3 separate regions of the Homo sapiens genome follow, and all the other regions are linked to region 1. Evidence: fine-mapped expression QTL. A gene starts in region 1. Each other region holds a variant in brackets. All regions are shown on one strand. Distances are between the middles of the regions. Region 1 holds the start of BHMT (betaine--homocysteine S-methyltransferase). Region 2 overlaps LOC124901011 (a long non-coding RNA gene). Region 3 overlaps BHMT2 (betaine--homocysteine S-methyltransferase 2).

Evidence for each region. PIP is the estimated chance that this variant, and not a neighbour inherited with it, causes the effect.
Region 2: its variant is fine-mapped to the expression of BHMT in prefrontal cortex (CommonMind, PIP 0.91).
Region 3: its variant is fine-mapped to the expression of BHMT in subcutaneous fat (GTEx, PIP 0.91).

What each region holds. Positions count from the first base shown.
Region 1 is chr5:79,106,504-79,117,328 of GRCh38, forward strand. BHMT (betaine--homocysteine S-methyltransferase) reads left to right here and starts at 5,306. Exons shown (of 8, transcript NM_001713.3): 1 at 5,306-5,415; 2 at 9,264-9,396. The coding sequence starts at 5,383. It overlaps LOC124901012 (a long non-coding RNA gene), which reads right to left. Exons shown (of 2, transcript XR_007058837.1): 2 at 8,304-8,795. RefSeq lists an enhancer at 5,632-6,476.
Region 2 is chr5:79,186,083-79,196,907 of GRCh38, forward strand. All of the region lies in intron 1 of LOC124901011 (a long non-coding RNA gene), which reads right to left. Among named protein-coding and RNA genes, the nearest start is that of JMY, 45 kb to the right of the region's middle. The variant T/TA (reference allele first, on the strand shown) is at 6,244.
Region 3 is chr5:79,085,364-79,096,188 of GRCh38, forward strand. BHMT2 (betaine--homocysteine S-methyltransferase 2) reads left to right here. Exons shown (of 8, transcript NM_017614.5): 8 at 3,130-4,706. The coding sequence ends at 3,211. Among named protein-coding and RNA genes, the nearest start is that of BHMT2, 21 kb to the left of the region's middle. The variant T/G (reference allele first, on the strand shown) is at 4,659.

The sequences.
Region 1 (10,825 bases):
AGACCAAGTCGCAGGGCTGTCCCTGGGGTATGACTACCCAGATCAGGAGCTACATACTGGAGCTGATGGACCACTTAAACATCATGTACCAGACCCCTGGGAAAAAGGGGACCTATAGCATCCACTCCAACCGTTTCCTATTAAGACAGAGAAAGATGAACTAAGACATCTATTAGCAGCTCACAAAGATGATAGAAATTAAGATTTGAATGGCTATTCCCAGAACTTAGTGCTTCTGTTTTCCAATGCCTATCAAAAACAACAACATTTCAGAATGACTAGGCAACCCAAGGGTTACACACAGTGCAGAAGTCATGGGGTATTTGGTGGGGTAGCCTGGTCAGGACAGACTATTTTCTGTCTGTCACTAACTGTATGTCCAATGAATTGGAACTTCTGACCAGGAGAAGGGACCTCTGGGTCGGGCCAGGTGAGTGGGAATGTCCATGAGTCAGATGAGGTTATAAAAAGTTTGGGGAGCTTTTGAGAAAAACAATCTACTGAAAAGAAAGCATAGAGTAACTCTAAAGAGTGTGATCTCTGGCTTCATTCGGCCCAGCTGACGTCCTCTCTCAGCTCTGTGCTTACTATTGACATGATCTTGGGAAAGTTCTCATCTGGCCTCCATGGGCCTCAGCACTGTCATCAGTAAAATCGGGCTGGTCAAATCCCTACCTCACAGGGCTATTGTAAGGATTACTAATGCTTACAAAGCACTTAGCACAGCTAACTCCACATAGGAAGTGCTCATAAAGTTACAGTTATCTGCTTAAAAAAAAAAGCCACAAAAGGGCATGTGACAGGCTAATCATCCTGTTAGAAAGCATTTGAGGAAAAGCAGAAGAGAGGAAATTTCAGAGCTAGAAAGGGAACTCAGGATGCAATTACCATGCTGAGAGGATAGTTCTGGGAAACTGGAGGTGTCCAGAATGAACAAGAATATCAGCTGGAGGACTCCTCTGTGGAAAGCCAGGAGATGCTGGAGACGCTGGATATGCTGGCTAATCTGCAAGCCCTGAGGGAAGCATTTTCACCTGTGGTGGAAGGAAGCTCTGAGATAACAAGCAAAAACAAAAAGCTCAGCTGTTTCTCTAAGAACTAGGAAATTAAAGGCAAAAACTCAAGCATGGGCAGCAGTTGGAGGCACCAGCAGGAGCCACAGGCACGGTCAGAGCCGGGCTCAGGAAGGGCTCGCTGATGGCAAGGGAAAGGCAATGAAAGCACCCTGGGAAGAGGCTGTTTTGTGCTCTAAGTTTATGCCAAACCAAATGCAAAGACAAATCTGAAAAGTCACCCAGCTTCAACTTCTAATTTTCCATATGAAGAAACCAAGACCCTTTAAAGAGGAGTAATTGTGCAGTGGTTGGCTATGCATGAACGTGTTGGGACAAATGCATGTATGTGGCCACTGCAATAGACAGGGTGCTGGACAGGACAGGTAAACTGAGGAAAACCTGTGCACCTGCAGAAGAGAGTTTTAGAAGGAAAATCCACCTCATCAACCTTTTAGTATCGTCATCCTGGCAAGAAAAAATAACGGGGGTTAGTGGCAGTAGGAAAATGTAAGGCAAATGAAATCTTCGGTTTGGGGGCTACTTGGGGGAACATGTATTCCGTAACCCCAAATATACCTTCTATTTATAGCAGAAGTTGAAAGCCCAAATGCCTTTAAGGTAAGGTAAATATGTGAACCAGAAGAGTGCAGGGCAGCTGGGTGTGGTACAGACCAGCAAATGGGAAGGGTGGAAGCGCCACATAAAGGAATTCACATTCAATTTTTTAAAAACACTGGCCTTGCCAAAGGAAACGCAGAAGCTGGCTCCATTTCCACATCAGCAGTTTGCAAACACTGTTCTGTACAGTGTTAACATGTAAAACCACCATTAAACACAGTGTTAAAACATCATTAAACATCATACTAAAATATAAAACATCATTAAACACAGTGTTAAAGTATCTTCAATGGTTTAAGGCTAAATGAAACATATTTAGTCTAAAAAGGCCTGTGAAAAGTCAGTTTCATTTTAAAAGAGATCCCAGTTGAGTGGGAAATGAAAAGTCCTGACATTTTTCCATCTACATATTGGTAAAAGGAACATTTTAGCACTTATATGAGATGGTTTCTATCTCTTCCTTGAAAAAAAAAAAAAAGGAGATGATATCCTTTACTTCCAGCACCAAGCATAGGGTTTAAAACATTGTATTAATGGTACCTAAATGTTTATTGAGTGAATAAATAGGATTTCAAATAGAACAAAGCACTGGTCAGAGACAGAACAATAACCGAGTATCTTTTGAGGTTGTAAAATGAAGGGGGTGGATCGCCAGCTCTAAGTCTCCTCTTCTTCTTTGGGATTTATTTTTAACCCCCAACATCTTTGTACACAGCCATGGACTTCAGTCTTATGACCTCCCTCATCTGGTTGACTCCAGTAGAGATCAGAGAACATAGGCAGCCTCCCAAGGACAGTTTATTGCAGAACTCACTTCCTGCCAGGTGCAGTGGCTCACGCCTGTAATCCCAGCACTTTGGAAGGCCGAGGCGGATGGATCACCTGGGGTCAGGAGTTCAAGACCAGCCTCTCCAACATGGTGAAACCCCGTCTCTACCAAAAAATACAAGTTAGCCGGGTGTGGTGGCGCCAGCCTGTAATCCCAGCTACTCGGGATGCTGAGGCAGGAGAATCACTTGAACCCAGAAGGCAGAGGTTGCAGTGAGCTGAGATTGCACCACTGCACTCCAGCCTGGGCGACAGAGTGAGACTCTATCTCAAAAAAACAAACAAACAAGCAAAAAACCTCACTTCCTAAGTGGTATCCAAGCAGACTTAGTTCTCTGGGAATGGGGCAAAGAAACTTCAGGGAGCATGCTGATGATCCATCTAACTCCCTAACTTCGTGGTTCTTGAGAACAAAGAGGGGACACCCACCTCACAGAGTTGTGTGGGGTAAATAATGTTGTGTAAGTAAAAGGCTTAGTGCCTTTTACATACATGGTGGATATTATCATCTATTATGGAAATAAGTGAATAATTTTTTAAATGGACCTAATTGGGGGTGGGGGCATGGGATAGTTAGGACAACAAATTGAGAGGCCCAGAAAAAACAAAAATATTTTGACAGCACCTATAAATCATTCTGGAAAAGCTGGGAGTCGATAATTTTTTTAAAAAACGAAAATTCCCTACGTTCGAGTACAAATCCTTTTATATACATCTATACACTTAGGTATGCATAAAATTCCTCTGGAAGAACGGTTAACAGGCAATAGTGGTTACCTCCAGGGAGGGGACTTGATCTGCAACAGCAGCTGGGGAAAGGCTTCTAAATTTTTTTTGCCATGTTTGTTCTTGGAGAAATAAAGATTAAAAAAGTAAAATTTTTGCCATGTGTCTATATTACCTATTAAAAATTCATAATTCACTTCTAAATTTAATGCTACTAGTTTAAAATTTCTCCCAAGTTTTGCCACATTTTGAGGAAACTGAAATTGGGAACGTCGGCTTTCAGCCTTTATTGAGTGTTAGAGTGCTTATACCGCCTCCTAGTGCCAGATACCCACGACTGCGGCTGCTCCCTGCAGCCACCGCGGGGCTCACTCTAGACCTGTTCATCTCACCAGTGCTCACCAGGTGAATACCTTAACTAGTTAACGCATTAACTAACTAAACTGTTACCTATTCGGATACTCCAATGCCTTCAAGGTGTTTTTTTTTTTTAATCTAGGTACTGTGAAGAATGACTTTACCTCATGCCTCATTCTTGCTGACCCCAGATCACAGTTGGGGGTGGAGGAGCCAATGAAATAATAGATCACTTGAATAACAGTATATCCTTTCACCTTTTCATTTCTTTTTCCATTTTAAACTTGACATACTTAGAAGCAAAAGGACATTTTTACTTTCTCAGTTGTATTTCAAACACATGTCACTTTAGCCGTTAAATTTGTATTAATTCATCAGGTGTTGCAGTAACTTTCTTCTCTGCATGTGTTGAAATGGAGGTTGTTTGTCCACATACAGAATTTTTTTACATGCTTTTATTTGGGTAAAATTTTCTGAACTGTGTTTCAGATATTTCATTGTTCTGTAGGCTATTTACTGTCATGCTGTACATTTTTTTTTCTTTTGAGACAGAGTTTCACTCTTTTTGCCCAGGCTGGAGTGCAATGGCACAATCTCGGCTCACTGCAACCTCTGCCCCCAGGGTTCAAGCGATTCTCCTGCCTCAGCCTCCCGAGTAGCTGGGATTACAGGCGCCTGCCACCATGCCCGGCTAATTTTTGTATTTTTAGCAGAGACGGGGGTTTCACCATGTTGGCCAGGCTGGTCTCGAACTCCTGACTTCAGGTGATCCACCCGCCTCACCCTCCCAAAGTGCTAGGATTACTGGCATGAGCCACCGTGCAGGCCATGCTGTACATTTTTTAAAGTAATGTTTTTATTATTTTAAAATCAATGTATTCTCATTATAAAAATATTTTGGAAAATACAGTGAAACATGAAGAATAAAATAAAACAAGCCTTAATTCCGCCATCAATAGGTAACTACTGTTAACATCTCTATTCCCTCCAGTTCTTCTAATGTCTATGTTTTTATATCGTTTTCATGCTGAATTTTGAAGTCTTCAAAGTACATTTCTGCTTCCATTTATAAATGTTAAAAGTCTGTCCTTGTTAAATATTACAAACATATTCTTATTAGAAACTACTGTGTTATTAGAAACTGCAAGGCATGTTTGGGTATAGGGGTAGAAGGTCATTTTGAACATACCCGCCAATTCAGGGTTAGTATTGGACTCCTCTACTAAAGCCGCATTTGTGTCCCGTTATACTGGATGTATATCACACAGGAGATCACACTCCAGGCTGAAGATCTTCCAGGACTTCATCCCCTGATTCCATAATCTTGACGCCTTGGCCTTTGACAAATATCTGAGCATCGAATGGACTTCTCAGAGGCCTCTCTGGCAGCCTAAGTGGGCCATGGTGCATGATCCCAGGTGAGCGAGAGGACGGTCAGGGTCGGGGCAAAAGTGCAAGAGGCAAAAGGGACGCTAGGCAGGTTTGAAATCTGAGCGAGTGGCAACCTCGCTTTTTCTTATCTTACTTTTCGGTGGTTCCACCCATTTGGGTGAACAATCTGGATTACCTCCTTGGCAGGCCAGGTTCCCAACAGGAGGCGGGCCTGATGAAGGGCTGGTGGGCGTGTTCCCGCCCAAGGTCCGTGTTGGCCCGCGCGGTGGCTGGGAGGCCCTCCCCACGCCCAACTGCGGGTATAAAGAGGCAGGCTGCGGACTCGGAGCAGCTCGGGGCTGCGCAGCGGGAAGGCTCGCCTAGTCGGTCCGCATCCGTGTCGACCACCTGTCTGGACACCACGAAGATGCCACCCGTTGGGGGCAAAAAGGCCAAGAAGGTGAGTCTCCAGGGGACCCGAGGGCGCTCTCCTTCCCCTCCCACCTGCTCTGTATCCCAGCCTCTGGGAGCGCAGAGGGGCCCTCGGACCCTGCCTGGTACCCATCATCCTCCTACTCCCTCCCCTCCCTCAGCCTCAGACCAGAATGTGCTTCCAGAACTTCTCCAGCAGGACCCCAAGGCGCCTCTGAGCCTCCCCACTCCTGCCCCACGTTCAGAGCGCGCCCCCAGAGCGCCTCTGTCCCCTCCAGCCCCAGCCCAGCTTGGACCAGAGTGCGCCCCAGATCTATGTGATCCTTGCCTCTCAGACCCAAAGGCACCCTCTGAGCCCTCCCTGACGGCTGGGTGTCCCCAGAACTCCGAGCCTTCCAATATCTTCTGAATCTGGCACCCCAAGACCAGAAAACTCCCTAGAGATACTGCTCCTAGCCCCGCAGGCGCGATATCCCGTCCCCACGGAGCCCCTCCGCATCTGTGTCCGAGGCCGCCGCGAGCGCCCTCTGCACCCGGCGCGCCCAGAACAGGGAGGAGTGCACGGCGCTGGCTCCGACATTTCCCGCCTGGATCTGCACCGCGGGTGTCGGGGCCGCCTCCCCGCCGGGTTCTCGCTGCACCCAAGGCCCAGGCGCTGGTTGGGTGATTGCAGATTTTCACAGGCAATTTGATGTCCGTGATGACAGAAAAATGTCATCCGAAATGTCAGCCTCGAAAACATGGTTTAAGAAAAAATGGGCAGAGTGGCTGTAAGATACTGAGGAAGGGCTGTTGATGAAATTGTAAAACCCAATTCCAGCTCCAGATGAACAAGTCCATCTCTTGGCTATCCCAGTGGCTTGTTGGGAGGGGTATTTTCAGTCCAGACGGTAGGCCTTCCTCTAATTTGGGGAACGGATGGATAGATGGACTGACTGCCGTGGAATGAGACTGGACAGGTGGGAAGAGAGAGAGAAGGATGGAGGGAGGAGAGAATAAACTTGACCTTTTGGTCAAATGCCCAGTCCCAGGCCTGGCACGACAGAGGCCCCCGGAAAATGGTAGGGAGGCAGATGGGGCCAGGCCAACTGTATCCTCTGGGCTGTAAGGACAGTGAGAAAGGTCCAGCTCTCATCCCAGTGCCTGCCCTGCTGGAGAACCAGCTGAGGTGTGCCCAGTTTCTAAAGGGATGGCCTCCCAAATCAAAAAGACCTCTACACAAGGAAGAAGGTCAATTCGGTTACAGATTCTAAATGCAGCATCGTGGATGCATGTTGATGGCATGAGTGGGTGTTGAGATGGCAAAGGACTATGGACTATCACCAGTCAAAGGAGGGTGAGAATTTCGCCAGTCCCTAAATGTACTAAATGAATAGTCCACAGAGACTGGGAAGGATGATTCCTATAGATATAGATATTTTTTGTTTGTCCCCATTCTCATAGCCACGTAAGTCTAACTTATTCCCCAAACTCAAACTCAGAAAATCTAACATTTTAAAGAATTATCTTTGTAGAATTATCTAAGCAACAGATGAATGTAAGATGGAAAAAACAGTTTCCTAGTAACTTGTTTCCGTGCATATGTCAGTGTTAAAACAATATATGGACAATAACATGTCTACACATTTGAGTTTAAAATTAAAATAAATGTTACAAAGTTTGCACATGTTCATTATAAACAATGAGGGAAAGCACAAAGAACAGTGCCTGTTAAATTCTGGTGTATATTCTGCTAGTTTGTTGTTGAGGCAAATATGCACTTCTTAGACAAAAATGGGCTGATATTACATATACTGTTTTGTAATACTTTTTCACAAAATGGTATATTTTTTTCATAGCACATTCCACCTTTTAAAAAGTCTGTTTAGCTTGGGAACAGAAAATCCTGAAGTCTAGATAATTTTAAAATGCAATAGAATGTAAGAGATCATATTTCCAGAGGTAACCACTCAACAAGTGCATGAGCCACATAGTAATTGAATCGCCACTACCCACCCTGCCACCCAGCATCAGATCCTTAGCTATGCTGCACATTAAAATGCTGTGGTACTAAAATTTGAAAACACACACGTTCAATGGGAGCTGCTAACTGCCCAAATGTCATGAATTATTTTATCCAAATAAAAGTTAGTAGCAAGTCATATCTCATTTAAGTGACCCTTGTTATGTTTTTTATGTAACTGTGCTGGCAGTAGTATATATATATATATATTTATATATATGTATACATATATATATTATTGTTGTTGTTAATTAGGTCATAATCAAAGTTGCAGTTTTCAGATGTGACATTTAGATACATTGCAATCATGACAAATATTTGGATTTCAAAATGACGTGTGAGCCATTTATATTTTTGTTGTGCTTTGTTATCTTATGGGCTCCCATAAGATAACAAGGCTTCAACACTATGGCTTGAAAATGTTTTGATCTGAAAGGTATATTAGGGAACACACAGCATAATCCTACCACTTTGCTTCTGTCTGGTGAAATGTCAATTGTTTCCTCTCTCTGAGCACCAGCTGTCCAAATGGCATGGGAAGGGGCAGTGGAGGGGAAGAGAATGAAAATGAGGGAGGTTCTAAGAAGGTGGCAAGGAATTGGGATGCAAAATCCTGTGACTGCCTCTCACAGATTTCTGGAATCTTGTTATTATGTCAGCTTTTGTTTTATCCACTGTTATTGGTAGTAAGTGGAACACACTGGGTAAATACGTCCCAAGTTATTCCTTTACACTATACAGTTTTTTTCAGGGCTGTCCCACCACCCCCAATCCCATTTGAAATCAAATATAGATGTTATTTAAGCATAAAAGAGTCAGGAAGCCCTATGCTCCCCATCTGGAAAACCATGTATAAATTACTCAGGGACTCTGGGTCTTAATTTCTCATTTGTGAAATGAGAGAGAGATCTCAATTGAATTGAGTACTATTTATTTTTAAAGTCTATGATTCTTTGAAATTACAAAAAATCTATTAAACTAGAGAATTACTTTGTAATTCACAAAACCCTTTCAAAATACTTAATTCCAAAGTTATCCATAGAACAACACCAGGGTGATTACTGCACAGTATTGTAAATGGAATAAGTATGGAGATTGGGCTGAAAAATCATTCAACAAATACTTTAGTTGTCTCTTCCTTGTTCTCATCATAGAGTACAGCATGTGCACACTCATAACCTGGACTGTATAGCATAGCTACTGTTGTGGAAACTGAATTTTAACACCAAAGATAGAAGTCTTTGAGTGATTTGGCCACCTTTTCAGTCTTAAAATAAAATGGCTTAATAGCATTGCTGGGCACTGTGGCACGAGCCTGTAGTTTTGGCTGCTGGGGAGGGTGAGACTGGAGGATCTTCTGAGCCCAGGAGTTCAAGTTCCTCTGGGCACATAGTGAGATGCTGTCTCTAAGAAAAAAAAAAAAAAATAGCATTCTATGCCATTTCAACTTCTTTAACAATTTTTTAACCCTCTCTTTAGTTTGTTGATAGAGTAAGAAGACTAGTATTTACCATTTTAAGAATCTGTGCTTAAGTGCAGATTTGAGGCTTTACAACAAAATCTTTTCATTTAATCCCTCAGCAGACAGTTCTTCAAACACACCTCCCACGGTGTTCTTCAAATACTCTTTAACGTGTTAAGAAAGACCCCCCCACCCACAGCACATACAAAGGAATACACAAATGTTTATTTTATGAGCATTCTGGTTGTTTGTCTTATAGATAGCCATAAATGTATATATAAAATATACATTTTTCTCTGAAAATTCTAAAATAACCACACATCTCCAAGAATATGTTAGCAAAAGTAATAAAAATAGAAAATTATCTTAAACACTCAAGTAACTCCTTTTCCTCCCTCATCTGTAATTTTAGGGCATCCTAGAACGTTTAAATGCTGGAGAGATTGTGATTGGAGATGGAGGGTTTGTCTTTGCACTGGAGAAGAGGGGCTACGTAAAGGCAGGACCCTGGACTCCTGAAGCTGCTGTGGAGCACCCAGAAGCAGGTTGGTGCAGAGCTCTATTGTAAGTTCTCATAAAGGAGCCGGGTGTGGAGGCTCATGCCTGTAATCCCAGCAACTCAGGAGGCTGAGGTGGGAAGACCACTTGAGCCCAGGAGTTCAAGACCAGCCTGGGCACATAGGGAGACCTAGTCTCTCAGAAGTTTTTTAAAAATTAGCTGGACATGGTGGTGCACTCCTGTAGTCCCAGCTACTTGGGAGGCTGAGGCAGGAGGATCGCTTGAGCTATTTTATGCAAATGATTTTGTGTATCTGCAGCGCTTTTGTAATTTAGACTGAGTGGTAGCTAGAATTGATGGAAACCCCTGAAGAGTCTTCCTGCAAGCTGGACTTCACCTGCAACATTTTTATATATCTCATGCCTGGGCCTGACTTTTTCATGTTCTGGGCAAAAAGAAAGGAGTGGTTATGCTACAGGCCCACAATCCCCTGTCCAAACCACATTTTGGGGTCAAACATATCTTGGAATCCAGGAATCTGGGGATGTTAGAAAGTTAATACAGTACAAATGTAGCATATTATGTAACACTCCCAATGGGCCCTGAAGCAGCTCCCATTGAAACACATTAATACATTTTTGCATCAAAATACATGACTACCCTTACTAATTGAAACATGTTTATCAATACCTTCATGTTGGTTCAGGTCATATTTTGCCCCCAAATGGTTTTGCTGCAAACTTACCCAACTGAAGAAATACTTCAGAATTTTATTTGACCTTTTAGAGTTTGCTGTGGAATTTTAAAAACTTGCATTTCTCAAGCTAAATCTATAAGGCTAATCTCCAACTATGCCATGTACATATATAATCATGTATCAATGTACATTTAGCTTCTATGATTTTAAAATAAGTAATATAATGAGGAGTTAAGGCCATAAAATGAAGGTAATCAATTAGTATAAGCGACGTCATTGAGTAAAAGGGACTAGCCCTATTGTATTATGGGTTAGAGTAGGAACCTTGTGGTCAGGAAAAAGTAGGTGAAAGGATACTCAAATTACCAGCCTCATTCTCTTGCTAAAGTTTATGCCCAAAGTTATGGTTCTTGCACCCAGTGGAAGCAGCTTTAATTCAGCAATGAATTCAGGTTATCGGGGTCTGGAAGAGTTTGAGGAATCTGCCTTTCTGATAATTGCCCCCAGGTGACTCTAAGATGGATCATACTTAGAGAATCACTGCAGTTTTAGAAGCATGATGAATAATCAAGAGTGAGGAGTTGTCTTCAACTGTTTGGGATCACTGCCCTGTGGAAAAATCTGATAAAATTTTATAGACCTTCTGCACTGTAAAATGTATTTATACATAACAATTTGCACACATTTCCAGGGTTTTTTTCATGAAACCTCTGGAACTCCACCCAAGGACCATGTGAGTGGACTTCGTAGTTATAAACCATTTATTCCTAGTGTCCAG
Region 2 (10,825 bases), 80 kb after region 1:
CTGGGCAACAAGAACAAAACTCTGTCTCAAAAAAAAAAAAAAGAAAAAGAAAAAGAAAAAAATTCCAGAGATACCATTGCATTTACTTTTTACAAACATTTCTTTTTTAGGCACTGGGCTGAACACTGGTTGGATGGTGCCTGCTTGGGCTGAGGTGGAGACAGGCTGGAGTTAGGAAGATAATTCTTATTTCTCCCAGTTGGGAAAGACCTAGAAAAGGATCCAGGATGTAGATGTTCCTAGGTATTCTCAATTTTGCAAAGCTGGAAGGTGTTACTTTATTAGATTCCCACAATGTGCCTTTCAGAAATGACAGTTAACAATTATTGGGTGCCAAAATACATACATGGTTTTTTATTTACATGCATCTAATACTGATTCTGTCCCTAATATAGAGCAGACACTCTACAAACACACTGAAACATTTGCAATCAGGTAAACTGTGACTTGCAAAGAGGTGGGAATAACTTTCCCAAGATTACACACTAGTACCCCTAACTCCCATTCTGCATGAGCTGTTGATGCTACTCTTCCACATATCCTCACATTCTGGAACCCTTCAAAATGACAGTAATTACTTTGGAGGACAGGTCCTCTATGATGTAATAAAAATAACTCTTGACTGAGAATTCTGTTCTTGTCTCAGCTCTACTAATTAGCCCTGTGAACGAGGACAAATGTCTTTACCTCACCACCTCTCAGTTTCCTCAACTAAAAAATGCTAACATGAAATGGAATGCTCTCAAAAGTACCTTTTGTTCCTAAAATTCAAAGGTGTAAGAAGTATATATTCCATGCTGGGTGTGCTGGCTCACGCCTGTAATCCCAGCACTTTGGGAGGCCAAGGCAGGTGGATCATCTCAGTTGAGGAGTTCAAGACCAGCCTGACCAACATGGTAAAACCTCGTCTCTACTAAAAATACAAAAATTGGGCCGGGCGCGGTGGCTCACGCCTGTAATCCCAGCACTTTGGGAGGCCGAGGCGGGCGGATCATGAGGTCAGGAGATCGAGACCATCCCGGCTAAAACGGTGAAACCCCGTCTCTACTAAAAATACAAAAAATTAGCCGGGCGTAGTGGCGGGCGCCTGTAGTCCCAGCTACTTGGGAGGCTGAGGCAGGAGAATGGCGTGAACCCGGGAGGCGGAGCTTGCAGTGAGCCGAGATCCCGCCACTGCACTCCAGCCTGGGCAACAGAGCGAGACTCCGTCTCAAAAAAAAAAAAATAAATAAATAAATAAAAAAAATAAAAATAAAAAAAATAAAATAAAAATACAAAAATTAGTTGGGTGTGGTGGCGTGTGCCTATAATCCCAGCTACTCAGGAGGCTGAGGCATAAGAATGGCTTGAACCCAGGAGGCAGAGGTTGCAGTGAACTGAGATAGTGCCACTGCTCTCCAGCCTGGGCAACAGAGCGTGACTTCGTCTAAAAAAAAAAAAAAAAAAAAAGAAGTATATATTCTAAATTAAGGAATATATATTTGAAATTATGGGACATGTCATAATTTAAATTATGTCTTAGTCTATAATGATGTATTTGAACATGAGTATATCTTAAAGGAAAACGCCAAGAGTTTTTGTCTGATAGAGGGCTTTAAAATACTGGCTTTAAAAAATAAATAAAAAATTAAACATTGGCTTTTAATAAAATGAATCAACTTAAAAATTATCTGGCTGGGTGTGGTGGTGTAGGTCAATAATCCCAAAACTTTGGGAGGCTGAGGCAGCAGAATCACTCGGCCAGGAGTTCAAGACCATGGGGCAATGTAGCAAAACCCCATCTGTATTTTTATTTTTATTTTTTTTAGACTGAATCTTGCTCTGTCACCTAGGCTGGAGTGCAGTGGCATGATCTCAGCTCACTGCAACCTCCACCTCTGGGTTGAAGCAATTCTCCTGCCTCAGCCTCCTGAGTAGCTGGGATTACAAGTGCCTGCCACCACGCCCAGCTAATTTTTGTAGTTTTAGTAGAGACGAGGTTTCACCATGTTGGCCAAGCTGGTCTCGAACTCTTGACCTCAAGTGATCCGCCCACCTCAGCCTCCCAAAGTGCTGGGATTACAGGTGTGAGCCACTGTGCCCAGCCCCCATTTTATTAAAAAAAAATTATCTCATTTCAGTCACCCTTTTCAGGAGGATGAGCCTAGCTCTGGCAATGTCTTGGATTTATGAAGTTCCTCTCTTGAGGCTGAACAGAGATAGGTACTTTCTGCAGTGGCATCAGGACACCCCTTGACATTGTAACATGAAGGTGGTGGCAATGGCCAGTGTTGAGGGGAAATGGAGAGTATCTGAAGGACAGGAGGTAGGAGTAAGACAGGTGGTAGCAGAGGAATGGGTGGGACCCACTGACAGAGTGACACCTCCAGCTGGCCAAGCTATCAGTGTGGACTTTGTGTATAGGAAACAAGCTTCATACGTATTGGTATGTAACCAGTTCCTTGATATGCCCATCTTGAGTATGCCCACTCAGCCCTTCTTCTGAGCTTATTGTCCCTCCTCCTCCTTCTCTTGCTCAAACTCTTGCCTTTACCTGTTTGAATCCCTGCCTACGCAATACCTTAAAGTTGGGAGTTCCTGCTTGGGCAGGAGTGGAGACAGACTGAAATGAGAATTCTGATTTCTTAAGGCTCCTAAGCTAGGAAATACCAAGAAAAAGGATCCAAAGTTTTGACATTTTAAAATATTCGCAGTTATGTGAAGTTTGATCCCAAAACTACAACAGATACCCACAGTATTAAAAGCTAACATTTATTGAGTGCTTACTAAGTGTTGGGCACTGTTTTAAAGAGCTCATATATGCTAACTAATTTTGTTTTCCCAACAGCCACACGCAATAGGAACTTTTTTTTTTTAAGAGTCAGGGTCTCACTCCGTTGCCCAGGCTGGAGTGGGCAGCCTACGAGTGCAGTGGCTCACTCGCAGCTCATTGCAGCCTTAAACTTTTGGGCTCAAGTGATCCTTTCTCCACCATGCCCAGCTAATTTTTAAATTTTTTTGTAGAGATGTGGCTTGAGGCCAGGAGTCCATGACCAGCCTAGGCAACACAGCAAGACCCTGTCTCTTAAAAAATAATTTAAAAATTGGCCCAGCATGGTGGTACATGCCTGCAGTCCCAGCTACTCAGGAGGCTGATGTCAGGGATCTTTAGAGCCTGCAAGATTCGAGGCTGCAGTGCTATGATGATACCACTGTACTCCAGCCTGGGTGACAGAGTGAAACTCAAAACAAACAAACAAACAAAAACCATGCTTTTTTTTGTTGTTCTTGTAGAGACAGGGTCTCGATATGTTGCCAGGGCTGGTCTCAAATTTCTGGGCTCAAGTAATCCTCCCACCTCAGCCTCCCAAAGTGCTGGGATTATAGGTGTTAGCTGCTGTGCTCGGCTGTTCTTGGCCCATACTAAGCATTTAATGTTAGCTCTTGTCATAGGTAGCGTTAGTTCTGCAAAATTAACTCACCCTGAGAGATGATTTATAAATGTTTTGCTGAGGAAACTTGAAAAATTTCTCAAGTCCAATCATAGGGTAGCAATTAAATGTCTGAGATAGTCCAGGACAGCCCAGCATGAGCTTCAGTATTCCAAGAACCAGGGCTCTCCAGTCTTTCTGTCAGTGTAATCTGAAGGCATGTCCCCTCACCCTAGAGCATCCTAGTGCTGTGTATTAAATGAAACACACACACACACACACACACACACACAATACCTTCTTCTAAGGATAAACAATAATTTCCAAAGGTAGCGTACTTCTAGTAAGGCATATCAAGAGTAAAAATAGCCCTTTTAATACAAGATGATCAGCACAGAGATACAGATCACAGTGGAGACGGCATGTGACATTACTGTTGAGCCATACTGGCATCTGTTAGTTGAATTGGTTCCAAGCTTCTAAACTCACACAGCTTATTATCTTGTACACATACCAAGCCAAAATGCTAAAATTGCAGTTTTTTCTTTCTTTAAGCAGCATTAGTTTCAGCAGCAAGACATCTGTCATCTCCTATGTTAATTTCTGCAAAGGAATGATCGCAAACATGAGGACTTACTAACTTCCTGTGCTGTACTCAGCGCCGAAGGAGTCAGGGGGTGGAGGTAAAAGATTTGTTCTCCAGGTTGTATGAACGACAACATTTTTGTGTGTCTTCAGAAAAATTTCAGCATTTTTTGCTATAATCAAACTAAACATTTACATGTGCATGGTTTTTCAGGTGTTGGTTGATATATTAACGTAATCGTAAAGCATGCCAAACAAAATCATGATAAGCCTACTGACTCAGAGGTGATTAAACCTCTCAATGAATTCACAATTATTTGTTTCAAATGCTTCATTTTCCTGATTAGAGAGCAAAAATAATTGGAGAAATTATCAAAACTAATTACCACTTGAAATGTATTGTATAGGCCTTCCAAAAATGAAACATTTATGAGTTGAGAACCATATTATAGTTAAATCAAATAAGAGATAGGAAGCTGCAAACATTACATTTCACCTTCCTGGGTAGTAATCTAAATCTAAATTTAGTGAATTTTAGATGAATTTTATTTAAATCAATTCCATCCTAAATTATGTGCATCACTGCAGTCATTTGAAATAGTAGACTGAACAGATTCAGAAAAGTACTACTCAGAGATTAGTAGAATGAATTTTTTATAAAACTGCCTTGATTCCCCTTGGAATTCTTTTTTTTTTTTTTTTTTTTCAGATGGAGTCTCGCTCTGTCACCCAGGCTGGAGTGCAGTGGCCCAATCTCGGCTCACTGCAAGCTCCGCCTCCCGGGTTCACACCATTCTCCTGCCTCAGCCTCCTGAGTAGCTGGGATTACAGGTGCCCGCCACCACACCCAGCTAATTTTTTTTTGTATTTTTAGTAGAGACGGGGTTTCACTGTGTTAGCCAGGATGGTCTCGATCTCCTGACCTCGTGATCCGCCCGCCTCGGCCTCCCAAAGTGCTGGGATTACAGGCGTAAGCCACCACGCCCGGCTCCCCTTGGAATTCTTAAAAAAGTAAAATAAAAATTTAAAAACTCATCTAGGGGCTGAGCGTGATGGCTCCTTCTCAAAAAAAAAAAAAATAATAATAATAATAATTAGCTGAGTATGGTAAATCCCAGCTACTTGGGAGGCTGAAGCAGGAGAATTGCTTGAAACCAGGAGGCAGAGGTTGCAGTGAGCTGGCCGAGATCATACCACTGCACTCCAGGCTGGGCAACAGAGGGAGACTCTGTCTCAAAAAAGAAAAAAAGAAAAAAAAGCACATTTAAAAAAACCCAGAAAAACAAAAATAGAAACTCATCTTGTTCTAATTCTAGAAAAAACATTAGGGAAGTAATTACTTGCAACATTTTACTTGGTGCTAATCAAGTTAAATTTTTAAAATGAGTGTATATAAGAAGAAATGCAGCTTATTGATCCTGAAGTAGATTAGGTGCCACTGATGCTGTTGAATTGAGAACTTTAGCCGGACATGGGAGTGGAGGACGAGTAAAAGATGCTGACTGGGCCTAGAGATCCCAAGGAGGAGGACAAGGGAGAGGAATGAGTGAATCCCCTAACAGTGAGAGAGCAATGCCAGCAGGTGGAGAAAAGAGTAAAGGCCTGAGAGCAGCTACAGCTCTGTGATGAGACTTCTTGTATGCAAGCGACTACTGCATGGCCCACAGCAGCTTGAAATAAATGGGCACCAGCTGCAGATAAGACAAGTGATAATAACAGCTCGAAATAAATGGGCAGACTCATTCACGCCAGCCTTCATCACCTAGTCGTCAGGATATTTCCTTACGGTTCTGAATATGACATTTGTTTCTAGTTTTATAACTATGAATTTATGTGAAACTCATGGGTTTTGATTTAGACAAGTAGCTTTTATGTAATTAGCGGTAATTCCATCTTTTTTTTTTTTTTTTTTTGAGACAGAGTCTAGCTGTGTCACCCAGGCTGGAGTGCAGTAGTGTGATATCGGCTCACTGCAACCTCCACCTCCTGGGTTCAAGCAATTCTCCTGCCTCAGCCTCCTGAGTAGCTGGGACTACAGGTGCCCACCACCATGCTTGGCTAAATTTTTTTTTTTTTTTTGTATTTTTAGTAGAGACGGGAGTTTCACCAGGTTGGCCAGGCTGGTCTTGAACTCCTGACCTCAGGTGATCTGCCCGCTTGGCCTCCCAAAGTGCTAGGATTACAGGCGTGAGCCACTGCTCCCAGCCATGATTCCATCTTAGTAAAGTTCTGTGATCTGCAAAAAAAC[T/TA]AAAAAAAAAAAAAAAAAAAAGAAAAATGCAAAAGATACATTACTTTTTTTTTTTTTTTGACATGGAGTTTCGCTCTTGTTGTCCAGCTTGGAGTGCAATGGCGCAATATCAGCTCACCGCAACCTCTGCCTCCCGGGTAGCTGGGATTACAGGCATGCACCACCATGCCTGGCTAATTTTGCATTTTTGGTAGAGACGGGGTTTCTCCAAGTTGGTCAGGCTGGTCTCGAACTCCCGACCTCAGGTGATCCTCCCGCCTTGGCCTCCCAAAGTGCTGGGATTACAGGCATGAACCACCACGCCTGGCCCAGAAGATATACTTCTAAGAAGTTAAATGAATTATTAATTAGCATTATGAAATTTCATCTTGTTTCCATCTTAGCCTATATTTCAAATTCATATATTTGTCTTAAAATATGCTTCAGTTTTTTATCCTAAGAAGCCATATCATGTAAGTCAATAATGAATCCATATGAAATAGTTACATGAAGTTCTAACTCAGAAAACACTCAGAGAAATTATTTTGGCATAAAGAAGCCACTCTTTGGAGGCAACAGAAATTCAGATTCATACTCTGCCACTGTTACAGAGTATGGATATTTATAAAATTTGGGTAATATGTCTTTTTATAATGTCATTTTTAAAATTATCAGCACTGCCGGACGCGGTGGCTCATGCCTGTAATCCCAGCACTTTGGGAGGCTGAGGCAGGTGGATCACGAGGTCAGGAGATCGAGACCATCCTGGCTAACACAGTGAAACCCCGTCTCTACTGAAAATACAAAAACTTAGCCAGGCGGGCCGGGTGCGGTGGCTTACGCCTGTAATCCCAGCACTTTGGGAGACTGAGACGGGCGGATCACAAGGTCAGGAGATCGAGACCATCCTGGCTAATACGTGAAACCCCGTCTCTACTAAAAATACAAAAAATTAGCAGGGCACGGTGGCGGGCGCCTGTAGTCCCAGTTACTCCGGAGGCTGAGGCAGGAGAATAGCGTGAACCCGGGAGGCGGAGCTTGCAGTGAGCCGAGATCGCGCCACTGCACTCCAGCCTGGGCGATAGAGCGAGACTCCGTCTCAAAAAACAAAAAAAAAACAAAAAAACTTAGCCAGGCGTGGTGGCAGGTGCCTGTAGTCCCAGCTACTTGGGAGGCTGAGGCAGGAGAATGGCGTGAACCCGGGAGACGGAGCTTGCAGTGAGCCGATATCGTGCCACTGCACTCCAGCCTGGGCGACAGAGCGAGACTCTGTCTCAAAAAATAAATAAATAAATAAATAAATAAAATTATCAGCACCAGAATCGTATTTCATTGAATATATATCCATTTTCTTGCCCACCTGTGAGCCTGATCAGTTTCTGACGGCAGAGACAGTCTTTTGTTTGTTCAGGGTGTGGTCTTATGTCAGATAGAATAACAGAGCAAAACAGGATGCACGTGTGTGACAAAAACAGGGGAATGCTAGCAATTTTATGAGTTTTATACTTGGTGGTGCTTCATCTTAATTTCCTGTGATTTGATGTCTTAATCTTTAATTGCTCCATTTTGAAATCAGCCACCAGCTGCAGCTAATACAGGTCACAGTAACCTGATGAGTCAGCCTCACACTCCTGAGGCCATTCTGCACATTTGCCAACAACATTCAGAGCAGACGCGACCAAAGTGTCATAACAAGCAGACTGGTCAGTTGACAAAGTTAGTTTAGAGCTGTAGCTTTCTCAAAGAAAGTGTAGACCAGCAGCATCAGCATCACCTGGGAATGTGTTAGTAATGCAATTATTGAGCCCCATACCAGACCTAGGGCATCAGAAACTCTGAAGGTGGGGACCAACAACTTAAGTTTTAACAAGCCATGCAGGTGATCCTCATGTACATTAGGTTTGAGAATCACTGGATTAGGTCAGGGGTCCCCAGCCCTCAGTACTGGTCCATGGCCTGTTAGGAACCGGGCTGCACAGCAGGAGGTGAGCCGAAGGCTAGTGAGCATTACTACCCTAGCTCCACCTCCTATCAGAACAGCAGCGGCATTAGATTCTCATAGGAGCACAGACCCTACTTTGAACTGCACATGTGAGGGATCTAGGTTGCATACTCCTTATGAGAATCTAATGCCTGATGATCTGAAGTGGAACAGTTTCATCCTGAAACCAACCCCTGCCCACTGCCCTCCCAGTCCATGGAAAAACTGTCTTCCATGAAACCAGTCCCTGGTGCCAAAAAGTTTGGGGACCGCTGGATTAGGTGCTTCTCTAATGTCATGATTTTATAGAAATTTGTGAAACATTGATTTTGTGACAAAGCTTCAAAGGCTACTTGAATAAGTAGAGTGATTAAGGAAGTGTTAATAAGACAAACCTGGACAAATTACTTAACTTCAGTTTCCTCGGTAAAGGGAGATTACTAATAGTTCTGATCTCATAGGATCTGTTGTGAGGATTCAACAAGTTAATACACATGAAATGCTCACAAACAGCTCTGGGTGTCCTAAGTATTCAATAAATGGTCCTAGGGAGGGAATTTTATTATCCTCAGTTTTCAAATGAAGGCCCAGAAGTACTAGGAAGGTAAATAATTTACCCAAGTAAATAAAAATTAGAATCCACACAAATTGCAGGCTTTTCTCCACTCTACTATACTTCCCAGTGAGGGTGGGGAGGAGTATAAACTGGAAGAAATATTCGACAAACTAGTGATAGGTTCTCCAGAGTTACTGTCCACAATTTAAGGGGGGTAAAACAGGAACTGAAGTGCTTTTTCATTTTTCTCAAACCTTAGGGATCGTTGATGCAATAGCAGAAGGAAAACATTCTTACCTCCTAAAATTATTGTCTTGCTGTCAGCAGAGTTTGTGGTCACCTGTGCTGGCACACAGACAGCAGCCAAGGGGCCCTACTTCCATCCTAATGGATCCAGCCCTCTGGAGGGTCCCCATTCTGTTACAAATGGTTCTTTATTTCTAGGTGGAAGAGGCTATAAATTCTGCAAAACTGTTGTAATTCATTTTCTGCTAGACCAGTTAGCAAGTGTTTTCTAAATACATTATCATTGTGGGTGGTTTTATTGTTATTATCATATTACTAATGTTTAGCAATTCTGTTTCTTCATTCTTGCTCTACTGTTTTTTGAGACGTGGCGCGATCTCGGCTCACTGCAACCTCCAACTCCCTGGTTCAAACGATTCTCCTGCCTCAGCCTCCTGAGTAGCTGGGATTACAGGCATGTACCACCATGCCCAGCTACTTTTTGTATTTTCAGTAGAGACGGGGTTTCACCATATTGGCCAGGCTGGTCTCGAACTCCTGACCTCGTGATCTGCCTGCCTCGGCCTCCCAAAGTGCTGGGATTACAGGTGTAAGCCACCGCGCCTGGCCTCTAGTTTGTTTTCTAGGAGAAGTAAGATAGTAGAAATATCTAATATTCTCTTCCTTCCTCCTCAATCTGACCAAATTTTGCAAAATCTAAAGTCTAAAAAGTGCCAGTTGGGTGAATGTTAATGACAATAGGGAAGTATTGCTAATCCTTCAGGGCATGATCAATGGCACATCTAGTTTATCTGATACCTAGAATTAATCATTTTTAAATCCCTACTTTTTTCATACGACAAAATTACTTTCAGTAACAATCATGAAATCAAATTAATAATAACCAGAAAAATACAGTAAAATTTAATTTCTTTTTTACTTTAAAAATATTTTTTAGAAACAGGGTCTTGCTCTGTTACCCAGGCTGGAATGCAATTGTGAGATCATAGTTCACTGCAACCTTGAACTCCTATGCTCAAGAGATCTCCCTGCTTCAGCCTCCAGGCCTGAAATTTTATTTTATTGAACTTCATATATATATAAAATTTCATATGTATAAAACATGCCAGGAGGCCAGCAGTGGTGGTTTATGCCTATAATCCCACTTTGAGAGGCCAAGGAGGGAGGATTGCTTGAGGTCAGGAGTTTGAGACCAGCCTGGATAACATAGCAAGACCTCATCTCTACCAAAAATTAAAAAAAAAAAAAAAAACCAGGCGACACACGATGGCTCACACCTGTAATCCTAGCACTTTGGGATGAAAAGGTCAGGAGTTTGAGACCAGCCTGGCCAACACAGTGAAATCCCATCTCTACTAAAACTACAAAAGTTAGCCGGGCATGGTGGCACATGCCTGTAGTCCCAGCTACTCAGGAGGCTGAGGCGGGAGCCTGAGGCAGGATAATCGCTTGAATCCAGGAGGCGGAGGTTGTGGTGAGCCAAGATCGCACCACTGCACTCTAGCCTGGACAACAGAGTGAGACTCCGTCTCAAAAAAAAAAAACAACAAAAAAACAAATGCAATACAATTAAAAAAAAAATTACACACATACACGAAATTATAAAGCATTAATACTATTTACTGTAATCGCATTAATTGTTAAGGTGAAAATTATACCTACATATTGGTTGTTTATAGTAATGAATAATGATGTTAGCATTTCATTGCAATTAAATAAGAAGAATTCCAGCTAATATAAAGATATTATTTATGTTAACCAGGATAGTCTATTTATCAACTAAAACTAGTTAGCTTTCTGTGCAGGAGTTCCAGCCTCTC
Region 3 (10,825 bases), 21 kb before region 1:
CAGATAGTCTCAGTTCAGTAATTAAAAGTGTTTAGGACTGGGCACAGTGGCTCACGCCTGTAATCCCAGCACTTTGGGAGGCCGAGGCTGGTGGATCACCTGAGGTCAGCAGTTCAAGACCAGCCTGGCCAACATGGCAAAACTTCATCTCTACTAAAAATACAAAAGTTAGCCTGGCGTGGTGGCGGGAGCCTATAATCCCAACTACTCGGGAGGCTGAGGCAGGAGAATCGCTTGAATTCAGTGGGGTGGAGGTTGCAGTGAGCCAAGATTGTGCCACTTAACTCTAGCCTGGGCAATAGAGCGAAACTCCATTTCAAAATGAACAAACAAAAAAACCCCAAAAATAAAAAATAAATAAAAGTGTTCAGGTTCATGTCAAATCAAAACTCAGAGCATGTTTGAAACTTGAAGCTTCTCCCTTTGTCCAGCAACAGCCTTCCACAGACAGGAAACCAGGAGAGGCCAGCGCGCTGCTTCTCTTTCTCTGTTATGCTCCCAAACTTCCCTTCCCATCTTGCTACCATGGTTTCTGGCCTCCTCAGATTCAAAGTAAGAAGAAAGAGGATGGATAAAGGAGTAAGACTGTTGTTGCTTGCCTGGCACCCTGATAGGAAGCCGGCATCCTCTGACCCTGGCAGATCTTTGTGAGCACGCTCATGGGTCTTCAGAGGCTCCCACTGGAAACTTTTGTCTGTACTTCTCATGCCACAGGCATTTTTCTGACTGTGACTTCTGCCTCAGACAGTGGCTTTTTCAACCAGGTCACTCCAGATATACTCTGATTTGGGGGTCCTGTTGTCCTCCCCGGTAATTCTCTTGGGCCAGATTTTAGATAGTTCAGGCTGGCTCTCTCACTCTCATTAGGCTCAAAACAGCTTTCACCCTTTCTGCAGACAAGCCATGAGAGTGTGGTCTGACCCCAATTTAACAGCACCCCTTTTGCCCACAAGCAAAGTAGCTGGCCCATTGTTCTCTTGTGGTCCAGATTTTCCAGGGGACAGTCAAATGAGTCATCTGGCTGGTTCGTGGCCACCTCCTTTTAACTTCTGTGCAGTGTCTGTCTTGCAACTCCCCTTGATACCTAAAATCCATCATGCCTTGGTGTTTCCAGTCAAACTTCCAATCTAATACTCTGTTGCAGGAATAATAGAAAATTGTTGCATTTAGAAAAACGTTCACTGCAGAACAAAGTAGTATGCATGGGACCATGGATAAAGAGAAATAATCCTATTTACAAAACTTGAGCTACTTGTTGGAGAATGTTCCAAGCATCAAGGTCAAATGAATTTTCTTCTCTTGCATTCCCGTGGATATATTGTCCAAATCCATGCCATATTTCAATTTGCTTCATACTTGGTCTGACTTTCTTTGTATAGCCTTTGGTTTTCTAGGGATTTCTGATTAACTTCCTTTTCCATTGTTGAAAGAAAAATAACAGGGCTTCACTTTCCCTGAGGTCTTATAATTTCTAAATTATATTGTTTGTTACAGTAAGTCACTTTATTATTGAAGGCATTTTTCTTGGGGCCTCAAGAAAATTACTGTTCTGTTATGGATCATTGTATTTCACACACACACACTCATACTCTGTCTCTCTCTATCTTTCCATATAGATAATCTTTTGTGTATGTATGTGTGTGTGTGTGTGTATATATATATATATATATATATATATACATATGTATGTATATCTGTTGATATAATTCCATCCCCCTTCCATCTTCTAGAACTAGTCACAATCTCTGCTGTCTTCTCTCTGTTCAGTACTCTCATGTACTTCACCCATTTTGTGCTTATTTATTCATTTCAGTGGGATTTGAAAGTCTTCATTTTTGAACTGGAAAAATTTGCCTAATGCAAATTTACTTAGGTTGTAAAAGTAGGCAAGAATCACTTAGCCAAAGCTTTCTTCTAGGAGATATGGATATTTACCAGAGAAGATGTTTTGTATATGTGTCATACTTTTTAAAAAGTATTAAATATAAATATAATTAAAAGGTGAGGAAAACATACTTTGGTGATGATTAAAATAGTTTAAATAAGTGAGTAGTTTATTTAATTATCATCTGCTAGGAATCCTTAAAATTCATTAGCTATTAGAATTAAAACATTATTCTGTAGACCAAAGCAAGAAGACACCCTTTTTACCCTGACTCCCAAACCTACTGATATTCACAGAAATTTATGATTACACAATAAACACTAGATTTCTGACATCTCATCATCCAAAAATATTGATTTATTCATTGTTTTGTAAGTAAAGTGGAAAAAACAATAAAAATATATTCATCAGAAAGGGCTACGACCAGGGACCTTTGTACTCTTCTTCCTTTGTCTAACAACAAGAAACAAATATTGGTAAAGTAATTTGTATTATTTTCTTAGTTACTTTTTGGAGAATTATACTTTGACTCATTACATTAAAAACTGTTCTCGTATTCTTCTCATTACATTAAAATATTGATAGAGTTAGAAGGACTCTGTTAGAAATTTCAGAATAAATATAATTCATAAAAGTATGTGAAATGTAAGGCTGGGCATGGTGGCTTACACCTGTAATCCCAGTACTTTGGGAGGCCAAGGCAGACGGATCACTGGAGCTCAGGAGTTTGAGACTAGCCTGGGCAACATGGGGAGACCCTGTCTCTACTAAAAATACAAAAATTAGCCTGGTGTGGTGGTGCACGCCAGTAGTCCCAGCTACCTGGGGGGCTGAGGCAGGAGGATTGCTTGAATCCAGGAGGTCTAGGCTGCAGTGAGCCAAGATTGTGCCACTGCACTCCAGCCTGGGCAACAGAGCAAGACCCTGTCTCAAAATAAAAAGTATATGAAATTGAAATACGTTGTCTTTTTCTGAAAGGTGGTATGAAACCTAATGATTGTTATTGAAATGTAAGAAAGGCCCCTGGCATTAATGGATATGGACACAGTTTTCCGTCTGTATGTTAAAACAAAAGTTCTGCTTTAGCCTGATTATCCACCAAGTTTTGACTGTGTGTGTGTGTGTGTGTGTGTGTGTGTGTGTGTGTGTGGTTATATACATATACATACATATATACATATATGACATATTGGACTTATAGGTAAGACTTTTAATTAATTAATTATGTATATATTGAAACACAGGGCTCGAAGGGAGTATTGGGAGAATCTGCTGCCAGCTTCAGGCAGACCTTTCTGTCCTTCGCTGTCAAAGCCAGACTTCTAAGGAGTAGTGAAAGAAAACCCTGAAATAATCGAACAGGAAAAAGTTGCCCTCAAGCCTGACCTGGAACCGTTCCTCACCTTCATCCTCACCATGCCCTGCTATCTCCAGCTGCTGAGCAGCTGAGGTGCTGCAGCCCCTTCCCTTCCAGCCCACAAGTGTGTGCATATTGAGCTCCTGCTGTGGTTAAGCACTGCAACAGACTCTACCAGAGATGCAAAGAGAAGCGAGAGAGGCACCTTGTTCTCCAAGAACTTACTGTCCAATCATGCTGTGGTGCATTCCTTTGAAGATCATGAAGAATAGCCAAACTTGTCTTTGAGGGTGAATTTGACACTTTAAAATAATCAGAAGTCACTGAGACCCAAAGCTAGTGAATAATTCAAGTGACTAAGCTAGATACTTGAGGATGATAGAGCAACACTAAACTAAAGCAATGAGTCTGCTTTTTTTAATGATTTATACAATGACTCCAAAGGCAATCCCAAAGAAAAGATGTAAAGAATGTTTTGAGCAATGGTAGCATTATTGAAATAAATGTTTAACTATCCAAAGTGATTACTTTCAAAGATGATTTTTACTTAAAGATATTAGGTCTGGCCAGGCGAAGTGACTCACACCTGCAATCCCAGCACTTTGGGAGGCCGAGGCGGGCGGATCACCTGAGGTCAGCAGTTCAAGACCAGCCTGACCAACATGGTGAAACCCTGTCTCTACCAAAATACAAAAATTAGCCGGGCATGATGGCGGGTGCCTGTAATCCCAGCTACTCGGGAGGCTGAGGCAGGAGAATCGCTTGAACCCAGGAGGCGGAGCTTGCAGTGAGCCGAGATCAGGCCATTGCACTTCAGCCTGGGTGACAGAGTGAGACTCCATCTCAAAAAAAAAAAAAAAAGATATTAGGTCCTAGAATTTTTAAAATGTGTCTTCATAATCATAGGTAGCTAGGTTATAAACTATTTAAAGACAAGATCACGTGATAAGCTTATAATCTTCTCATAATTCCCCTTACTTAGCATTGTGTTAGACATACTAATAGGTGCACAGTGAAATACTTATTGTTGATTGTTTAAAAATAAAGTTTTAGAAAACCTTTTCAAAAGTCAGAGTTTAGGCCAGGGGCACAGGCTGACACCTATAATCCCAGCACTTTGGGAGGCCAGGGCGGGCAGATCACTTGGGTCAAGAGTTCAAGGCCAGCCTGGCCAACATGGCAAAACCCCATCTCTACTAAATAAAATACAAAAATTATCCAGGCATGGTGGTGCATGCCTGTAATCCCAGCTACTTGGAGGCTGAGGCATGAGAATTGCTTGAACCTGGGAGGCAGAGGTTGCAGTGAGCTGAGATCGCCCCACTGCAATCCAGCCTGGGAGACATAATTCAAATCTATTTTGGTCTTATATCTTCTTATGTTTGTGTTATTTCATGTGTGCCAGTTTCTCTTTTT[T/G]TCACAACAATTTATCAATTTGTGGCAATAAAAATGATTTACCTTTTATAGTGTTTGAATGTCGAAAATGTCATGAACATTCTTTGGAATAATACTAGCAAATATTTATTACTCACTATGTCGCAGTCTTTGTTCTAAAGATGATCTCATCTACATATACCCCCCAACAGGGATTCAAAATTAGATAGTGTTTAACACAGTAGTTTACAGGTAAGGAAACTGAAGTTTAAGGAGGCTAGGTAACTTGCCTGAGGTCACACAACTAGTAAATGTGAAATTAGTAAATTTGGATTTGAACCCATGGGGCTGGCTCTAGAATCCATGCCCTTAGCTACTGCACTACACGGCATCTGTCATGCACACAGCTGCTGCTTTTTGTCAAAAATCTATCCAAATTTTTCTGTCGCTGGATTCAAAGTATTTTTTATCAACTTTCCTTATTATGAATTAACTCTTCAAACCTGCCATGACTGTTTCTGTAATGTTGACAACCTGGAATTTATTTGATATAGCCACTTTACCCATAATACACAACCCCACCCTGCTGGAAATTAGAAAGTGAATCATTTACTATTATCTCAAGGCCTTTGGGGTCCTTAAGGGTGACTAATCCAAACCACCAATTAAATACCTGAATATCCTCGCCAGCATCTTCATCAGGACCATCCAGTCCCTGTTTGAATCCCTTAAATAGTAACTCACTACCTCTCGAGATCACTTACTCCTTTTTAAGAAACACTTCATTCTCTGGAAAGTTATTCCATGTATTAACTAGAAATCTATTTATTAATGACCCTCACCTGCAGACTTGGAGCACCTAAAGTGCAAATTTATAATTTCTTCCATATAACTCTTTGAAATTTAAAGATAGCTGTATGGCTTTCCTATACTTACTTGTCCTCATTTCCTTCAACTAAAAGGCATAGGCTAAGATGTGCTTTGTCAAATCTACCTGTGTGACACTGTACAGTTACTTAAGCTTTATGCCTTAATTTCCTCATCTGTAAAATGAGGGTAAAATAGAACCATCCTTATTAGGGTGCTATGAGGATTAAATGAGATAAGTTTCTTAGAAACAGTGCATGTCGTATAACAGGCATTCATTGCACATTATATAGTATAATATAATTATGTTGACTTGGTTTCCAATCCCCTCATCCTCATGGTGACTGTCTTCTGGGAACACTCTGGTACCAAAGCCTCTGCTTATTTTTAGTATGTAGTCCTGAACACCACATTCCAGGGGAGGACCGTTTACACAATATCTCCTGCTTGCTTCATAGATTTTGTGGAGAGGGCAGTGCAGGACATCATGAGAATAGCAAGAGTGAAGAAGGTACATTAGGAGGGAGAGATGTCTCCACACCGAATCCCTTCCTTGGGTCTGCACCAGCACAAACAAAGGCTTTTATCTAGTTACTGTACAGTTTAGGTGTGCTAAACTGTATAGGAGTTTGAGACCAGCCTGGGTAACATGGCAAAACTCTGTCTCTACAAAAAAATACAAAAATTAGCTGGGCATGGTGGTGCATGCCTATAGTCTCAGCTAGTCAAGAGGCTGAAGCTTGAGCCCGGGAGGTCGAAGCTGCAGTGAGCTGTGATCACACCACTGCACTCCAGCCCGGGTGACAGAGCAAGACCTTGTCTCAAAAAAAAATAATAAAATAAAATAAAATAAAAATAAAAATTAAGAAAGAAAAAAAGATAAATTTTACCATATAAAAACTTTAAATGTATGAACACTCACACAAAAATACTCTAAACAAAGGCAAAGGCAAATAGGAAAACTGTGTAACAGAGGTCAGAAACCACTCTTCCAGTAAAGGGGTCTTGAGCTGCTTTTGTTCAAACCTCCCCGAACCCAAACAGATGTTGTGAGGGGGGCTCGCCTATGTGATTGGCATTCAGAACCCCACTCCACTCCATTTTCTTGGGCTTACAGGTATTATGAGAGGACAGTGTACCCAGCTGGGACCAAGCAAAGCCTTGGGGTCAGCACTAGCATCAACACCATCAGCCATGTTGATGGTCACTGTTTCAGGTGTAGGATATGAGGTTGTGGATCAGGTGCCCCAGGAAGCACAGTGCACCTCGTGGAGATGATGTGAGGGCCAGGTCGTTGGATCTACAGGCACTGACACAGAGCTCGGACAGTTTCTGAGCATTCATATGTTATCCCGTAACATGGTACCTGCCAGCCCCACTTGACTCTTTCCTTCCCAAGAAGCAGGTCCTCTCCCTTGTTGGGCAACTTCTGGGGATTGATGGTCAGCTCCTGTGCGCCCCCACGTGCACTTTGTACTGCCTCCTCCCCACCTCCCTCAATCCCCACAACTATGTAAGGTTTTCAGAAAAACTTTCTTTTCTTCATATGTTATTATAATAGGACATCACTCCAAAAGCAATAGGAAAGTGAAGTCCTCTTTTCTCAATGGCATCCTTATTAGAGGTGGGGAAATATTTGCCTTATATCTTTCCAGTGCTGGGAAAAAAGGGTGGGGGGAACAGAATAACACAATCTGAGTACTAATATCCTGCCACACATATTTGCATACATTTGATAAGCTAAGGGATAGTTTCCTTAATCTATAAATTAGGAAATAATTACCTTAATCCATTAAATATAGAAAAAGATAAACACATTCAAAATTAGGTAAATGCACAGCAAAGTGACGAGATACCTTTTTTCACCTATCATCAACTAGGATCAATAAGTGGATAATATGTCAATGAGGGTGCAGGGGAAAAGACTTTCTCATACATATGCTTTTTGTAGAAGCATAATCTGGTACAAACTATTTGGAAAGTAATTGGTCCATATTTACAAAATTTAGAATTCACATGCCCTTGGATGAGCAATTTTACTTCTAGGAATATAATCTGCAATTATGTTCATATATATGCAAATATGTATGTCTGGAAACCACCTAAATATCCATCAATGACATATTAGTAAATGAATTATGGAACATCTACAGGATGTTAAAGCATGGCATCATTACAAAGAGTACATTATATCAATATGTGCTAAGATGGAAGGATCTCCTCCATATATTGTTAAATGAAAGTATGCTCCCATTGTGTGTACATAGAATATTTCAGGAAGGAATATCTCCCTCCTAGGGGAGAAAGACTGGTGATAGAAAGTGTGGTGTAGGAGGAAGACTTCCTTTTCTCTGATGCCCTTCTTTAGTGTCTACATTTGTTAATATGGTTTGGTATTACTTTTTCTACAAAATAAATTAGTTTTAAAACATATGTCAAGATTTCTGATTCCAAGGGGAAAAATCAGATAACATGAGTTTCCTGTTGTGATACAGAATGGGAAACGCTACATTACCAATGATGTACACCAGCCAGAAGTGCCTGGGGGAATCTAATCAAGCCTTTAGATTTCACTTCCAGTTCAGTGAAATCAAGGGATATAGGAACAAGGTAAACACCACAATCAGGTGAATCCTATATTCTACAGGCTGGCTGGCCTGGTCTTTTCCACAGGTCATTGTGTTGGAGTTGCTCATCTTTATATGACAAACCAATGCAATGCATGGTCCTGGTTGAGACAAACTGGCTATAAGAGGTCTTTTGGGAACAACTGGGCAAATTTGACTAAGGAATCAGGTTAATTTTGGCAATGCAGGAAAATGTTCTTAATTTCTGGAAATAATGCAATTTTTTAAAATGCATACTAAATGTTGATTACTATTTATAATTTATGCTAAATATTTTAGAATATAAAAAGGAGGCGTTTTTAAAAGGCAAGATTTCCACAGGTTTTGATTTTGTAGGGGGAAATTAAGGAGAAGGTAATTGTCTGCCAAAAAAAAACAGTGCAATTAAGAAAAACTGGCTTGAACTAGCTCTTTCCAGTTCTACAGCAGATGTTTGCTGTACTGGAGTTATCAAGAAGAGCAGATGGCCCTCTGATAAACCCTGCTGTGCATAGACTCAGCAATGCAGACCAGCAAATAGCTGGCATGGAAACCAACTGAAAGGGATCGAAGAGATTTGTTGAAACTAGGGGCGAGGGTCAGCTGGAAAAACAATTCCTGCTTTGCAATGATCACAGCCATGATTTGATACTTTATGCAAAATCATAAACAAAGTTAAGCAACTCACTTTGGCTGTACAGTCAGCTGCCTTGAAGGTGAGCACATATTTTATTTAATCAGTAATGAAAATCCTGAAAAGAGTTGCAGAAGGGTGCAATTTTGCCTCATATCAGTGTTGTTTTGTGAAAGGATTTTGAGAAAAGTAGATGGGGCATGCTAGTGGTGCTATTGCTGGCAGTCACGTTTCATTTATAACCTCCATTATTTATCTGGAGCACAGAGGTGGGAAGAGGAGAGAAAGAGAAATAAAAGTTGTATTTTCCATGATACAGGTGCAGATGAGCCCGCCTTTCAAAATAGTGAAGTTGGAGGAGAATCTTTTCATCTGGTGGTGGCAACTCACCTCGAGGGTTCTGTGCTTTCATAACTAATCATGTTCAACCATTTTTTAATTTATTCACTCATTCAATCACTCATTCATTCACTGTTCAAATAACATTTATTTAGTGCTTGACTATGATAGTCACTCTTATATGTTCCATAGTACCCTATATTTATCATTAATAAGTTCAATGTAGTTTTTGCTTATTTGTTTTGGTTTTTTTGTTTGTTTTTGAGACAGAGTCTCACTTTGTTGCTCAGACTGGAGTGCAGTGGCAAGATCTCAGCTCACTGCAGCCTCCGCCTCCTGGGTTCAAGTGATTCTCCTGCCTCAGCCTACTGAGTAGCTGGGACTACAGGCGCCCACCACCACATCTGGCTAATTTTTGTATTTTTCATAGAGATGGGTTTCACCATGTTGGCCAGGCTGGTCTTGAACTCCTGAGCTCAAGCGATCCACCTACCTTGGACTCCCAAAGTGTTGGGATTACAGGCATGACCCACCATGCCCGGCCAGTTCAATGTAGTTTTAATACTCCCTTGGTCATTCCTGTTTACTTGCCTATTCCCTACTCAACAGGACAGTGAAAACATCTTGTTAGTTGTTGTATTCTCAGCATCCGGCACATTATAGAACTCAAAAAAAAATTGTTGAATGAATGAATAAGTAAATGAATGTACAAACCATGCTAAGGTCAAAGGATGCAAAGATGAATAAGCCACTCTCTTATGTTGCCTTGCTGAATCCTCTTGTCAAAAGTATTTTGAAGAACACGCACATGGTGTAGGACAGACCAGCATCAGATTGTGCTCTTTTAAAGAAGCTGAAGTTGAAGAGACTGGAAGGAGGAAATGGGGGGCATCAGAAAGTGAAATGGCAGGCTGTGCAAACAGAATGGCTCAGGGGGCAACCCTGAGAAGGCCCAGACCAGAGTAGATGAGGAAGCATTTAGGACAGAGGAGAGAGTTAGGACTCAGGGTCATTAGCAATAGACAAAAGTGCACATTCAAAAATGCATCATTGGCTGGGCATGGTGGCTTATGCCTGTAATCCTAGCACTTTGGGAGGCTGAAGCATGTGGATCACTTGAGCTCAGGAGTTTGAGACCAGCTTGGGCAACATGGCAAAACCTCATCTCCACCAAAAATAGGAAAAATTAGTGGAGTGTGGTGGCGTGTGCCTGTGGTCCCAGGTACTCAGGAGGCTTAGGTGGGAAGATCGCTTGAGCCCGAGAGGTGGAGGTTGCAGTGAGCCAAGATTGTACCACTGTACTCCAGCCTGGATAACAGAGTGAGACTCTGTCTCAAAAAAAAAAAAAAAAAAAAAAATTAAAATATGGGAACCATTTTAATGTCTTAAAAAAGTAAAACCAACACAAGCATTTTAACTGTTCAACTAAAACATGAGTGTGGGATACACTATTTCAAACCGCTTTTTTTTAAAATTATTATTATTATACTTTGTTTTAGGGTACATGTGCACAACATGCAGGTTTGTTACATATGTATACATGTGCCTTGCTGGTGCGCTGCACCCACTAACTCGTCATCTAGCATTAGGTATATCTCCGAATGCCATCCCTCCCCACTCCCCCCACCCCACAACAGTCCCCAGAGTGTGATGTTCCCCTTCCTGTGTCCATGTGTTCTCATTGTTCAATTCCCACCTATGAGTGAGAATATGAGGTGTTTGGTTTTTTGTTCTTGAGATAGTTTACTGAGAATGATGATTTC